Regions from separate parts of the Homo sapiens genome. Here region 2 is linked to region 1. A link means that fine-mapping ties the variant in region 1 to the expression of a gene that starts in the linked region. Tissue or cell type: ovary. Region 1 holds a variant in brackets; the other region holds the start of a gene. All regions are shown on one strand. Distances are between the middles of the regions.

Evidence for each region. PIP is the estimated chance that this variant, and not a neighbour inherited with it, causes the effect.
Region 2: ABCE1 starts here. The variant in region 1 is fine-mapped to the expression of ABCE1 in ovary (GTEx, PIP above 0.99).

Annotation. Positions count from the first base shown.
Region 1 is chr4:144,434,582-144,442,692 of GRCh38, reverse strand. The region is part of intron 1 of LOC105377462 (a long non-coding RNA gene); the gene reads left to right. Among named protein-coding and RNA genes, the nearest start is that of HHIP-AS1, 210 kb to the left of the region's middle. The variant G/A (reference allele first, on the strand shown) is at 3,400.
Region 2 is chr4:145,094,452-145,102,546 of GRCh38, reverse strand. ABCE1 (ATP binding cassette subfamily E member 1) reads right to left here and starts at 4,236. Exons shown (of 18, transcript NM_002940.3): 1 at 4,128-4,236. It overlaps ANAPC10 (anaphase promoting complex subunit 10), which reads left to right and starts at 4,351. Exons shown (of 5, transcript NM_001256706.2): 1 at 4,351-4,427; 2 at 6,436-6,562. The coding sequence starts at 6,448. RefSeq lists enhancers at 3,925-4,004, 3,353-4,224, 4,255-4,514, 4,595-4,644, 3,778-4,977 and 1 more.

The DNA of each region.
Region 1 (8,111 bases):
GTTTGGGAGCCTCCACCTAGACTTCAGAGGATGTAAGGAAATGCCTGGATGTCTATGTGGAAGTCTGCTGCTGGGGCAGAGCCCTCGTGGAGAACCTCTACTAGGGCAGTGCAGAGGGGAAATGTGAAGTTGAAGCCTGCACAGTCCCCACTGGTGCACTGCCTAGTGGAGCTGTGAAAAGACAGCCACCATCCTCCAGACCTCAGAATGGTAGATCCACAGACTGCTTGCTCCGTGTACCTGGAAAAGTCACAGTCACTCAATACCAGCCTGTGAAAGCAGCTTCAGGGGCATACCTTCCAGAGCCCATGGCTGCCCAAAAGCTGCCCATGGCAGTGGGAGGCTACCCCTTGCACCAGTGTGGCCTGGATGTGAGACATGGATTCAAAGGAGATTATTTTAGAGCTTTAAGATATAATGACTGCCTTGTTGGGTTTTGGAACTGCATGGGGCCTGTAGACCCTTTATTTTGGCCAATATCTCTTTTTTGGAATGGGAGCATTTACCCAATGCCTGTACCCCTGTTGTATCTGGGAAGTAACAAACTTGTTTTGGATTTCACAGACTCACAGGTGGAAGCAGCTTGCCTTGTCTCAGGGACTTTTAACTTGGACTTTGGAGTTAATGCTGGAATGAGTTAAGACTTTGGGTGACAATTAGAAAGGCATTAGTGTTTTGAAATGTGAGAAAAACATGAGATTTGGGAGGGGCCAGGGGCAAAATGATATGGTTGGTTCTGTGTCTCCATCTAAATCTCATGTTGAATTATAATCCCCAGTGTTGGGGTAGGAACCTGGTGGGAGCTGAATGAATTATGGGAGTGGTTTCTAATGGTTTAGCATTATCCCCCAGTACTGTCTCATGATAGAGTTCTCATGAGATCTGGTTGTTTAACAGTGTAGAGTACGTCCCCCTTCTCTTTCTCTCTCTTGATCCACCATGGTAAGGTATGCTTGCTTCCCCTTCACTTTCCTCCAGATTATAAGTTTCCTGAGGCCTCTCAGCCATGCTTCCAGTATGTCTTGCAGAACTGTGTGTCAATTAAGCCTCTTTTCTTTATGAATTATCTAATCTCAGGTAGTTCTTTCTTTAAATATATATATATAAATATATATATATATTATATATAAAAAATATAAATATATATTATATATATAAAAATATAAATATATATTATATACATATACATATACATATATATTATATATACTTTAAATATATATATTTATATATTTCTTTAAATATATGCATAAATTATGTATATTTATATATATTATATATATTTATATGTGTATTATATATTTATATTTATATATATCTTTATATATAATATATAATATATATTTATATTTATATATATCTTTATATATAATATATAATATATATTTATATTTATATATATCTTTATATATATATATTTAAAGAAAGAACTACCTGAGATTGGATAATTCATAAAGAAAAGAGGCTTAATTGACACACAGTTCTGCAAGATATACTGGAAGCATGGCTGAGAGGCCTCAGGAAACTTATAATCTGGAGGAAAGTGAAGGGGAAGCAAGCATACCTTGCCATGGTGGATATATATATACTTTAAGTTCTGGGATAGATGTGCAGAACATGCAGGTTTGTTATGCAAGTATACACGTGCCATGATGGTTTGCTGCACCCATCAACCTGTAACGACATTAGGTATTTCTCCTAATGCTATCCCTCCCGTAGCCCCCCACCCCCTGATAGTCCCCAGTGTGTGATATTCCCCTCCCTGTGTCCATGTGTTCTCATTGTTTAACTCCCACTTATGAGAGAGAACATGTGGTGTTCGATTTTCTGTTCCTGTGTTAGTATGCTGAGAATGATGGCTTCCAGCTTCATCCACGTCCCTGCAAAGGACATTAACTCATTCTTTATTATGGCTGCATAGTATTCCATGGTGTATATGTGCCACATTTTATTTATCCAGTCTGTCATTGATGGGCATTTGGGTTGGTTCCAAGTCTTTGCTATTGTGAATAGTGCTGCAATAAACATACATGTGCACGTGTTTTATAGTAGAATGATTTATAATCCTTTGGGTATATACCCAGTAATGGGATTGCTGGGTCAAATGGTATTTCTGGTTCTAGATCCTTGAGGAATCACCATACTGTCTTCCACAATGGCTGAACTAATTTACACTCCCACAAACAGTGTAAAAGCGTTCCTATTTCTCCACATCTACTCCAGCATCTGTTGTTTCCTTTTTGATGATTGTCATTCTAACTGGAGTGAGATGGTATCTCATTGTGGTTTTGATTTGCATTTTTCTAATGATCAGTGATGATGAGCTTTTTTTCATATGTTTGTTGGCCACATAAATGTCTTCTTTTGAGAAGTGTCTGTTCATATCCTTTGCCCAATTTTGGAGGGGGGTGTTTTTCTCCTGTAAATTTGTTTAAGTTTCTTGTAGATTCTGGATATTAGCCCTTTTTCAGATGGATAGATTGCAAAATTTTCTCCCATTCTGTAAGTTATCTGTTCACTCTGATGATAGTTTCTCTTGCTGTGCAGAAGCTCTTTAGTTTACTTAGATTGCATTTGTCAATTTTGGCTTTTGTTGCCATTGCTTTTGGTGTTTTAGTCATGAAGTCTTGCCCATGCCTATGTCCTGAATGGTATTGCCTAGGTTTTCTTCTAGGGTTTTTATGGTTTTAGGTCTTACATTTAGGTGTTTAATCCATCTTGTGCTAATTTTTACATAAGGTGTAAGAAAGGGGTCCAGTTTCAGTTTTCTGCATATGGCTAGCCAGTTTTCCCAGCACCATTTATTAAATAGAGAATCCTTTCCCCATTGATTGTTTTTTTCAGGTTTGATCAGACAAAAGATCAGATGGTTGTAGATGTGTGGCATTATTTCTGAGGCCTCTGTTCTGTTCCATTGGTCTATATATCTGTTTTGGTACCAGTACCATGCTGTTTTGGTTACTATAGCCAAACTTGTTTTGTAGTATAGTTTGACGTCAGGTAGGATGATACCTCCAGCTTTGTTCTTTTTTGCTTAGAATTGTCTTGGATATATGGGCTCTTTTTTGGTTTCATATGAAATTTAAAGTAGTTTTTAATAATTCTGTGAAGAAAATCAATGGTAGCTTGATGGGGATAGCATAGAATCTATAAATTACTTTGGCCAGTATGGCCATTTTCATGATATTGATTCTTCTTATCCATGAGCATGGAATGTCTTTCCATTTGTTTGTGTCCTCTCTTATTTCATTGAGCAGTGGTTTGTAGTTCTCCTTGAAGAGTTCCTTCACATCCCTTGTAAGTTGTATTCCAAGGTATTTTATTCTCTTTGTAGCAATTGTGAATGGAAGTTCACTCGTGATTTGGCTCTCTGCTTGTCTATTATTGGCATATAGGAAT[G/A]CTTGTGATTTTTGCACATTGATTTTGTATCCTGAGACTTTGCTGAAGTTGCTCATCAGCTTAATGAGATTTTGGGCTGAGACAATGGGGTTGTCTAAATATACAATCATGTCATCTGCAAACAGTGACAATTTGACTTCCTCTCTTCCTATTTGAATACCCTTTATTTCTTTCTCTTGCCTGATTGCCCTGGCCAGAACTTCCAGTACTATGTTGAATAGGAGTGGTGAGAGAGGGCATCCTTGTCTTGTACCAGTTCTCAAAAGGAATACTTTCAGCTTTTGTCCATTCAGTGTGATATTGGCTATGGGTTTGTCATAAATAGCTCTTATTAATTTGAGATATGTTCCATCAATACCTAGGTTATTGGGAGTTTTTAGCATGAAGAGGTGTTGAATTTTATTGAAGGCCTTTTCTGCATCTATTGAGATAATCATGTGGTTTTTGTCATTGATTCTGTTTATGTGATAGATTACGTTTATTGATTTGCATATGTTGAACCAGCCTTGCATCCCAAGGATGAAGCCAACTTGATTGTGGTGGATAAGCTTTTTGATGTGCTGCTGGATTCGGTTTGCCAGTATTTTTTGTTGTTGTTTTTTGAGGATTTTCACATCAACGTTCATCAGGGATATTGGCCTGAAATTTTCTTTTTTTGTTGTGTCTCTGCTGGGTTTTGGTATCAGAATAATGGTGGCCTCATAAAATGAGTTAGGAATGAGTCTTTCTTTTTCCATTGTTTGGAATAGTTTCAGAAGGAATAATTTCAGTTTGGAATACTTTCAGAAGCAACTCTTTTTATATGTGGTAGAATTCGGCTGTGAATCCGTCTGTTCCTTGGCTTTTTTGATTGGTAGGCTATTAATTACTGCCTCAATTTCAGAACTTGTTATTGGTCTATGCAAGGATTTGACTTCTTCCTGCTTTAGTATTGGGAGGTTGTATGTGTCCAGGAATTTATCAATTTCTTATAGATTTTCTAGTTTATTTGCATAGAGGTGTTTATAGTATTCTCTGATGGTAGTTTGTATTTCTGTGAGATCAATTGTGATCTCCCCTTTATCTTTTTTTATTGTGTCTATTTGATTCTTCTCTCTTTTCTTCTTTATTAGTCTGGCTAGTGGTCAATTTTGTTAATCTTTTCAAAAAACCAGCTTCTGGATTCATTGATTTTTTGAAGGGTTTTTCGTGTCTCTATCTCCTTCAGTTCTGCGCTCATCTTAGTTATTTCTTGTCTTCTGCTAGTTTTCGAATTTGTTTGCTCTTGCTTCTCTAGTTCTTTTAATTGTGATGTTAGGGTGTTGATTTTAGATATTTCCCAGTTTCTCCCATGGGCATTTGGTGCTATAAATTTCCCTCTAAACACTGCTTTAACTGAGTCCCAGAGATTCTGGTATGTTGTGTCTTTGTTCTCACTGGTTTCAAAGAACTTCTTTATTTCTGCCTTAATTTTGTTATTTACCCAGTAGTCACTTAGCAGCAGGTTGTTCAGTTTCCATGTAGTTGTGCAGTTTTGAGTGAGTTTCTTAATCCTGAGTTCTAATTTGGTTGCACTGTGGTCTGAGAGACAGTTTGTTATGACTTCCATTCTTTTGAATTTGCTGAGGAGTGTTTTACTTCCAATTATGTGATCAATTTTAGAATAAGTGCAATGTGGTGCTGAGAAAAATGTATATTCTGTTGATTTGGGGTGGAGAGTTCTGTAGGTGTCTATTAGGTCTCCTTGGTCCAGAGCTGAGTTCAAGTCCTGAATATCTTTGTTAATTTTCTGTCTCATTGATCTGTCTAATATTGACAGGGGGTGTTAAAGTCTCCCACAACTATTGTGTGGGAGTCTAAGTTTCTTTGTAGGTCTCTAAGAACTTGCTTTATGAATCTGGGTGCCCCTGTATTGGGTGCATATATATTTAGGATAGTTAGCTCTTCTTGTTGCATTGATTCCTTTAACATTATGTGTGCCGTTCTTTGTCTTTTTTGATCTTTGTTTGTTTAAAGTCCTTTTATCAGAGACTAGGATTGCAACCCCTGCTTTTTTTTTACTTTCCATTTGCTTGGTAAATTTCCCTCCATCCCTTTATTTTGAGCCTATCTGTGTCTTTTCATGTGAGATGGGTCTCCTGAATACAGCACATCGATGGGTCTTGACTCTGTCCAATTTGCCAGCCTGTGTCTTTTAATTGGGGCATTTAGCCCATTTACTTTTAACATTAATATTGTTATGTGTGAATTTGATCCTGTCATTATGATGCTAGCTGGTTATTTTGCTCATTAGTTGATGCAGTTTCTTCATCCTTTCAATGTTTTTTACAATTTGATATGTTTTTGCAGTGGCTGGTACCGGTTTTTCCTTTCCATATTTAGTGCTTCTTTCAGGAGCTCTTGTAAGGCAGGCCAGGTGGTGAAAAAAATCTCTCAGCATTTGCTTGTCTGTAAAGGATTGTATTTCTCCTTTGCTTATGACGCTTAGTTTGGCTGGATATGAAATTCTGGGTTGAAAATTATTTTCTTTAAGAATGTTGAATATTGGCCCCCACTCTCTTCTGGCTTGTAGGGTTTCTGCAGAGAGATCTGCTGTTAGTCTATTGGGCTTCCCTTTGTGTGTAACCTGACCTTTCTCTCTGGCTGCCCTTAACATTTTTTCCTTCATTTCAACCTTGGTGAATTTGATGATTATGTGTCTTTGGGTTGTTTTTCTTGAGGAGTATCTTTGTGGTGTTCTCTGTATTTCCTGAATTTGAATGTTGGCCTGTCTTGCTAGGTAGGGGAAGTTCTTCTGGATAATATCCTGAAGAGTGTTTTCCAACTTGGTTCCATCTTCCCCGTCACTTTCAGGTACACCAATCAAACGTAGGTTTGGTCTTTTCACATAGTCTCATATTTCTTGGAGGCTTTGTTTGTGCCTTTTTATTCTTTTTCCTCTGATCTTGTTTTCACGCTTTCTTTCATTAAGTTGATCTTCAATCTCTGATATCCTTTCTTTTGCTTGACTGATTCAGCTATTGTTTCTTGTGTATGCTTCATGAAGTGCTTGTGCTGTGTTTTTCAGCTCCATCAGGTCATTTATGTTCTTCTCTAAATTGGTTATTCTAGTTAGCAATTCCTCTAACCTTTTTGCAAGGTTCTTAGCTTCCTTGCATTGGGTTAGAATATGCTCCTTTAGCTCAGAGAAGTTTGTTATTACCCACCTTCTGAAGCCTACTATGTCAATTCGTCAAACTTGTTCTCCAGTTTTGTTCCCTTGTTGGTGAGGAGTTGTGATCCTTTGGAGGAGAAGAGGCATTCTGGTTTTTGCAATTTTCATCCTTTTGTGCTGGATTTTCCCTCATCTTCGTGGATTTACCTACCTTTGGTCTTTGATGTTGGTGACCTTCAGATGGGGTTTGGCTGTGGACATCCTTTTTGTTGATGTTGATGTTATTCCTTTCTGTTTGTTAGTTTTTCTTCTAACAGTCAGGCCCCTCAGCTGCAGGTCAGCTGGAGTTTGCTCAAGGTCCACTCCACACCCTGTTTGCCTGGGTATCACCAGCGGAGACTGCAGAACAGCAAAGATTCCTGCTTGTACCTTCCTCTGGAAGCTTTGTCCCAGAGGGGCACCCACCAGATGCCAGTCGGAGCTCTCCTGTATGAGGTGTCTGTTGACCCCTACTGGGAGGTGTCTCCCAGTCAGGAGGCATGGGGATCAGGGACCCACTTGAGGAGGCAGTCTGTCCCTTAGCAGAGCTCAAACTCTGTGCTGGGAGATCCACTGCTCTCTTCAGAGCTGAGAAGCAGGAGTGTTTAAGTCTGCTGAAGCGGCACTCACTGCTGCCCCTTCCCCCAGGTGCTCTGTCTCAGGGAGATGGGAGTTTTATCTATAAGCCCCTGACTGGGGCCGCTGTCTTTCTTTCAGAGATGCCCTGCCCAGAAAGAAGGAATCTAGAGAGGCAGTCTGGCTGCAGCAGCTTTGCCAAGCTGCGGTGGGCTCTGCCCAGTTCAAACTTCCAGGTGGCTTTGTTTACACTGTGAGGGGAAAACCATCTATACCAGCCCCAGTAAAGGCAGACACCCCTCCCCCTACCAAGCTCAAGCATCCCAGGTCAACTTCAGACTGCTCTGCTGGCAGCAAGAATTTCAAGCCAGTAGATTTTAGCTTGCTGGGATCTGTGAGTGTGGGATCTGCTGAGCTAGACCACTTGGCTCCCTGGCTTCAGCCCTCTTTCTAGGGGAGTGAATGGTTCTGTCTAACTGGCATTCCAGGCGCCACTGGGGTATTAAAAAAAACTCCTGTAGCTAGCTCAGTGTCTGCCCAGTCTCCCAGTTTCGTGCTTGAAACCCAGGGCCCTGGTGGTGTAGCCACTCGAGGGAATCTCCTGTTCTGCAGGTTGCAAAGACCATGGGAAAAGCCTAGTATCTGGGCCAGAATGTACCATTCCTCATGGCACAGTCCCTCAGAGCTTCCCTTGGCTAGGGGAAGGAGTTCCCTGACCCCTTGCACTTCCCACGTGAGGCAACGCCCCACCCTGCTTTGGCTTGCCCTCCATGGGCTGCACCCACTGTCTAACCAGTCCCAATATGATGAGCTAGGTACCTCAGTTGGAAATACAGAAATTACCTGACTTCTGCTTTGATCTAGTTGGGAGCTGCAGACTGGAGCTTTTCCTATTTGGTCATCTTGCCAGCCACCTCTCAGGTAGTTCTTTATAGCAGTGTGAGGTCAGACTAATACAGCACAT
Region 2 (8,095 bases), 660 kb before region 1:
ATTCATCATCTCAAATGGACCCTTATGCCAACCAGCAATGACACTGTATGTATTTCCCTGGCTAAGACCATTTGTACACTAGAAGACATTCCATAAGAATGTCCCAACAATTCTCCCTTCTGTCTTTAACTTCATCAATTATTCTCTCCACTGGCTCATTCTTATCAGCATTCAGGCATTCTATTATCTGACCCCATCGTCTCCCATTGTTTTATTTTTCCTTCTTCAAGACTACTTCAAAGAGTTGCTTATACTCAATGTCTCAAATTTCTTGCTACATGCTCTCTGGAATCCATTCTAGGCTCTAGAGCCCATCATTTAATCAAAACTTTTCGAGCCATCATTGTTCTTCACATGGCTAAAACAAATGGTTATCAGACCTTAATTCACCTGACCAATCAATTGCATCTGACACAAATAAACACTTTTCCTACTAGATAAAAACCCTTTCTTAACTTGGTTTTAGGATACAACACTAATCTGGTTTTTCTACTGTTTTCCTGGTCACTCATCTTCATCTCCCAGGCTTCTAAATGCAGAGTGCTCTAAGACTTGGTCATTTTTTTCCACATATACTCATTCCCCAAGTTGTTCTATTCTGGTCTCACAGGTTTAAATTCCATTTATATACTGCAAATTTCCAAATTTCTATCTTTAGTCAGCATACCTCTCTTGAACCCTTCCTGCCCACCTAACATCTCTGGAAGGCTTAAGAGGAATCTCCCAACTAAGCTCCTGATATCCTCACCAAAATTTCAGCAGTCTTGCCCATTTTGTTAGATGGCAACTCCAGTCTTCCATTTGCTCAGGCCCAAATCCTTGAAGTCATTTTCTTTTCCACCTAATAACAGCAAATCCCACTGAAGCTATAAAACATCCAGAATCTGATCTCATGAGTTTGGTGTAAGCTATCACTATCATCTCTTACCAGCATCACTCAAATAGCTTCCTAACAGATCTCTTTGCTTTTACCCTCACCTCTTTCTACTCTAACCCTCAACAGTTCATTCTCAACACAGGAACCATAGGAAGCCTTTTAAAGAGTAAGCTAGATCATGTCACTCCTCTATTTAAAATCCTGCAATGGCTTCATTCTCAATCTGAGTAAATGCCAAAGTCCTGAAAATAATCAATGAGGCATTGATCAGCCTCTGTTAACTTTCTGATCTCATCTCCAACTACTCTAGCTCTTGTATGGCTCCAGCTACATTGGCTCTTTGTTGTTCCTAGCACATGCCAGGCATGTTCTTGCTTCAAGATCTTGGCACTTTCTGCCTGTAATGCTATTCCCCCTAGAGAGTTACATGGCTTACTCCTTTCAATCTTTACTATTTCTCAGTGAGCCTTTTGTAACTACACTACCACAATATACACTACCGAAAAATACACCCAACTGCCTCTTCATCCTTCTTTCTTGCTTTATTTTTCTCCCTAGCTCAACTATATGACATACTATATATTCCATATATATATTTTTTTTATATATATCTGGTGTATATGCACACATCTATCGTGGGTGTGTGTATGTATATTGTCTCTCTACAAACACATACACATTTTTCCCCTCCCCAAGTAGAATGTACTCCATCCATCATGAGGGTAGGAATTTTTGTTCATTCCAGTGGCTGAACCTGTGCCTAGCACACAGGAGATCAAGCATTTCTGCTAAATGAATGAGAATATGAATTTAAATATAGTAAATAATTTTCCTGTAGGTTATAACAACTTTAGAAATCTTGCAAGTTACCAATATTTTATAGTGACAGTTGTCCACTAAACTACATACTGAAAAAAAAAATCATTCAAAAGGAGACTAAATGTTCATGTAATAAGTACAGGGTTATTCCAATAAACAGGTTGACTCTATTCCTCTAAAAACTGGTCCAGGTCTTGTAAAGATTAGAAGAGGAAGAAATTAGATGGCTTGAATTGTCACAAAAAAGCTATTATTCGGGAAATGACAACTTCCTAGGAAATGAAGATTCTTCAGCAAGCTATTAAAACTGGACACCATGCATTCTAATTTAAATACTGAATGCCTTTCTACAATTACTCAGTGAAAGAGCATAATGAATTCCCCTCCAGGGGATAAATCACCACGAAATTGCTTAAACTTTATTTCTGTTAAACTACTAAAATATTTAATTTTTCAAACTATTTTAAAAACCAAAAGACTGTAAAAGACAATTTTTTAAAAAGACACAGGGATCTTGCTATGGTGTCCTGGCTGAGGGCAGTGATCACAGGACACTACAGACTGGGACTCCTGGGCTCAAGGGATCCTCTTGCTTTAGCCTCCCGAATAGCTGGGACTATAGGTGCATGTCACTACCCTGGCTTGATTTTTACAGTAGAATAAAAACATACCAGAAGTGGTTAATAAACTGATTTATATAAAAATAGTGATAAATTGTAATGCATTTAAGAAAAATGAACATGGATTCTTTGTAGAACTGTTAATTAACTGTGTGAACACTTTTAATTCAATTTCTGTATCAGTTTCAATAATTGGGGCAAGGGGATTCCCTACTTGTTTTTCAATAGAAAACCTAGGCACAGTAAAGCTTGGAGAGGAAGATTATAGTTAACAGGCTCCTGCAAACAAAGAAGGATTTGCGGATATTTCAGATTCGAAGACAAAAGTGTTCAAAATTGACACTAGAACAATGACCCTCAGTGTCATTCTTACAGCTGAGAGGAAAAAAGGAAGTGAGGAATACTTAGAAGCATTTACAGTCTAAAGCCAAAATAATTGTAACGCTGTGTAAAAGCATTTCAAAGACTGCTGTTAACTAATGATGTTTAGTATCACATGAAATAGTCTAACCCATGCTTATTGTAGTTTATTAGTCTTACAAAACACGTAGAAGTTAGGAGTGGTACACGGCTCTGATTTCAAAGAGTTTTAAGTTTAAGACATTTAGAAGAACTCTAACTTAATATTGTTTTCTCCCCCTCTCTCCCAATTGTTAGATGCTCTTCCAACAAACAAACAAACAAAAAAACTCCCTTTTTTAAAATAGGGGAGAACTAAGTTCTCAAAAAGCTCACAAACCCCAAACAGCTTTTGGTTCAAATACAGGTTCTGAGCCTTTGGTTACACTAACAAAGTATTAGTGTCAGGTGGCTGGTATACAATGAATATTCTCAGAATATGGGACAAACTACTGCAACATAAATGCCACTATCATAAATGACTAGTTAGCAGTCCTGTTGGGAAAGAGTAAAAAAATAAAACATGTTATTTGGACAGTTCTTCCTCTTATAGATTTTTACCATCAAAAAAGAGAAAATAAGCTTATGTAGTTAATGGGAGGTGGGAATTCGGCTTTGGCTGTCATTCATTCACAATACGTATTAAATGCCTACAATGTACGAAGCCCTGAAGAGATAATAAAGGTATTCTGAGTAAAGACATCAACCTTGATCTCAATGAGTATTAGATACAATAAAAGGAAAAACGGGTAAGGGGAGAAAGTGCCTAGTGCTACAAAAGCGTACCAAAAAAACTATAGGATTTCTACTGGGAAACTACTTGGGACAACCCCAGTCATAGCTGCGTACACGCTGTTCTGAGAAAAGCAGAGTGACATGTGGGCATCATTTCTATAAAGCCTGGGAGTGGACAGCGAGTATTCGACTTCATGGCGGCAAGATGCCATGACTCATTCCACTCAACAAAACGTGGAAGCCACGACTTCCCACAACCAAATATGCACATGTGACAATATATCCATTTTGGGTGCTGGAGGAGTGTGGGGGTACTAGAGAGTGCTGTAAGTTCTAAAGGTGCCTTCCTCTCCAGCAGGTTTAGCTTCAGGGCGGGAGTGGGGTAAAGGGGGAGTGGAGACTACGGCATCTAGGTCCATTCTCGAAGTCCCTCGCGGGTGTGGCAGGCAACAGCGGCGACAGCCGGGTCGGCTGGAGGGGAAGACCGAGGCGCCCCCAAGCTCTCGGCGTCGCCCGCGCTCCATCAGTTCCAGCTGTCCCGCAGGAACCGCTGCCACGCGCTGCTGCTGTCTCCGCCACCTAAGGCCTAACCAAAGGCTCTCGGAGAACGTCCCTACATTCTTTCCAACCTGGCAGATGGCAGCTAACGGCCAAACCTCTCCGGGCTATTCACGTACCTGGAGAAAACGATCCCCTTGCGGAGGGGAGCACAGAGGCCAAATCAGCTCTTGCCTTCACTTTTCAGCCACACAGCGTGTTCTCACGGCCACCGGCCAAAATGGCGGTGCCCAGCCGCCGCACGCGCAAGCCATAGGACGTAGTGCGCGCGCGCGACATAGAGCGTGAGGCGGAACCCTGGAGGTAGGTAGGGAGATATGACGTCATTGAGCTGCGACCCTTGTTCAACGCCGTTGGCGAAGCCAGCTGCTGGAGGTGCCGAGAATCTGAGTTTCGGCAAGCAGCCAGGTCTGGAAACTGTGAGTGTGTGGGCTTTTCTCCGACGTCGAGCGTGGTCCTAGCGTAAACAGATGCATTCGCCTCTCCGGTTTCAATCTTTTTTTACGTTTGCGCTTTCCTCAAGGCCGGTGGGTCAGGAGTGGAGCCTTAGTCATTCTAACGCTGGAGGTGTCAGTAGGACCAACAGAGTCTGGTGCCGACACGGCTTACTGTTGCGCGCTCTTCTAGGCCTCAACTTCCTCTCAACTGTGTGGTCAGTTCAGGGCCGGGAATCCAATCTTTTCCGAGCTCCATATTTTATCCACTTGGTGGCGTCCAGTCCCAAGTCCGGCAGTTGAATTCTGCCCTAAAGATGGGCTTTATTTCTATCTTTTTTTAGGTAACAGGACATTCAGTTAGTAATGATGGTTGCAGGTTGAATAGTCTCGCCCTAGATCTCACCTAACTTGCAGGCAAGTGACAACTAGTTCATAACTGAACCTATTCATCTGTTTATTCATTCAGTAAATTACTTATTGAGCGTTTAAGCCTCAGGCCTTGCCAAAGTTTACAGTCCGTTGTGTCTGCCGTTATTTAGTAAGTATCAAGTGCTTGTGTGCCGATTAAAGAACAACTTCGGATACAATGGGAGGTGTCAAGGAAACGGTATGCAGAACTATTGCACCTATTTTGAATAGCATATATAACAATGTTCAGTAGCAGTAACTGCGCTACCAAAGCAGTTTTACATATTGTTCACGATCCAGTATTGAAGTGTTTTTTCACATATGAATAGACTTAGTAAAATTAACAAAAGATGTGAAAGATGAGGTCAACCTTTTTAGAATGGGCCAGTTATTCACTTCAAAATCTTGAAGCCATTTTCCTGACCTTATCTTCTATGGTAAGAGCATATGTAAGTGAACTTTTAACATTTTTTTCTTATTTTTGTGCTTTTTGGGACAGTGTCTTGCTCTGTTACGCAGGCTGGAGTGCAGTAGCACGATCTCGGCTCACTGCAACCTCCGCCTCCCAGTTCAGGTGATCCTCCTGTCTCAGCCCCCCTGGGACTACAGGTGTGTGCCGCCACACCAGGCTGATTTTTTGGAATTTTTTTAGAGACAGGGTTTCACCATATTCCAGGCTGGTCTCGAACTCCTGGGCTCAAGCAATCCACCTGCCTTGGCCTCCCAAACTGCTGGGATTACAGGTGTGAGCCACCGGGCTGGGTCTTAAATAAAACTTTTGACAGCTAGAGGGCAGGTATGACTGTTCTCTGCATCACTCAATGAATATTTAAAATGAGGATCTTAGTGGGGTGATGGGATCACACCTGTAATCCCAGCTACTTGGGAGGCTGAGGTGGGAGGATCGCTTGAAGCAAGGTGTTCAAGACCAGCCTGGGTAACATAGCTAGATCCTGTCTCTAAAAAAAAAGGAATTAAGTAAATAAAATGAGGATCAATATTTATATATTCCTAGAATAAAAGTATTTCAGTCTGACTTTTCTAGGGCTAAAAGTCATTTGAATTTTCAGGCACAGAATTATAGAACTGCATAGCATTGTAGAAGTAAAAATCATCAAGTGAACCTCTTTAACAGGAGAGGAAATAAAGCCCAGACCTACTCAAAGTCTAGGCTGATTAAAGGAGATACTGAAGCCAAAACTTTGATTCTGTGCTCTTTTGACTACTATAGCTCACTGCTTTGCATATCTGGTCATATGAAACAAAACCTGAATTCCTAAGATTTTTATTTATTTAAAAATAGAGATGGGGTCTTGCCATGTTGTCCAGGCTGGTCTTGAACTCCTGGGCTCACATGATCCTCCTGTCTCAGCCTCCCAAAGTGTTGGGATTACAGGTGTGAGCCACCATGCCCAGCCCCTAAGATTTAAATTACAGTGATTTAATTATATTAACTGCATTCTTCAGAATAAATGATTAATGTCAGGGTATATGAGTTCCATTAAATTTTTCTTGGTAAAAAACTTTTGTAGAAAGATGCCCAGTTCCTGATACAATGTGTGCATTCTTGTTTTCTACATAGAATATTTTAAAAATGACTACACCAAACAAGACACCTCCTGGTGCTGACCCCAAGCAGTTGGAAAGGACTGGAACAGTACGGGAAATTGGGTCACAAGCTGTTTGGTCACTCTCATCTTGCAAACCAGGTAAAAACTAACAAACAAAAAAGCTGTTGGAAATAGTCACTTGCAGTTTCCTTGTACAGGCATCTCCCCTTATCCCAGGGGATACATTCCAGGACTCCCAGTGGATGCCTAAAACCATGGATAGTACTGAACCCTTTCTATATTAATACTATGTTTTTTCCTATACATAAATACCTGTGATAAAGTGTAATTTATAAATTAGGCACAGTAAGAGATTAACAATAATTAATAATAAAATAGAACAATTATAACAATAGAAGTAATAAAGTAATAAAAGTTTTGTGAAAGTGGTCTCTCTCGCTCTCAAAATATTATATTGTACCCTTCCTCCTGCGATGATGTGAGAGATAAAATGTCTATGTGATGAGAGCGAGTGAGGTGAAGAATGTAGGTGTTGTGATGTAGTGTTAGGCTACTATTAACCTTCTGACAATACTTCAGAAGGAGGAGCATCTGCTTCTGGTGATTCTGGATCATCAAGCCACGATGATGTTGATGATTGGATATCAGGAGCAGATGATGTTGATGGCTAACGGTCAGGTAGTATACACAGTGTGGATATGCTGGACAAAGTGGTGGATGTGCTGGACAAAGTGGTGGATGTGCTGGACAAAGTGATGATTTATGTCTTGGGTGGGATGGAGCAGGATGGTGAGAAATTTCTTCACACTACTCAGACAGTACACAGTTTAAAACTTACCAATTGTTTGTTTCTGGAATTTCCCTTTTAATATTTTGAACCATGATTGACCAAGGGTAACTGAAACTGCGGAGATGAAACTGCAGATAAAGATACTACTGTACACTGGTCTGATTTTAATATTCCTTTTGTTTAGATGCTTTATTTTAATTCTAATGCACTGAATTTTTTTTTATCATATATCTCTGTCCAATTTCTTTACTATTCCCTAGTTAGATTTAATTACATATGTCATAAGGTCTTCTCTTTTCCTCCTCTATCTCTACTATGATTCAGTTGTTATTCATTTATTTTTTTTGGCCGTTTCTCTCAATTGGATAAATGAGTGATAACATACGCCAAAATACTTTCCTTTTACTCTTTGTTGGGATAGAATTCTTGGGTGGCAGTCCTTTTCTCTCAAAAATTTATGAATGCTCTTTCACTATCTTCTTTTGCCATGTTGTGGATATAAAGGCCTATGCCTACCTCTCTTTTTTTTTTTTCCTAAGTAACTTGTTTTTTTCTGGAAGCATCTAAGGTTTTTCTCTTTATTCTTGAGTTCATGGCATTTGCCAGATATCTTTTCTCACCCTTGTAACCCATAATTTTATAGGCAGTTTTCACCTGCAGACTCAAGCTTGGAGAAATTTCTTTAGCTTGAGGGACTTTATAATGTTATTAGTTTAGTAGTCATCTTTCTTTCAGAAACTTTTATTATTTGCACATTATGACTCCTGTATCCATCCTCTCAACCAAGCCTCTTCTGTTTCCCCTCAAGATTCCCTTCTCTGTCTTTCTATGAGCACTTTCTTGAGGTATAATTTACATACTATAAAACTTACCCTTTTTAG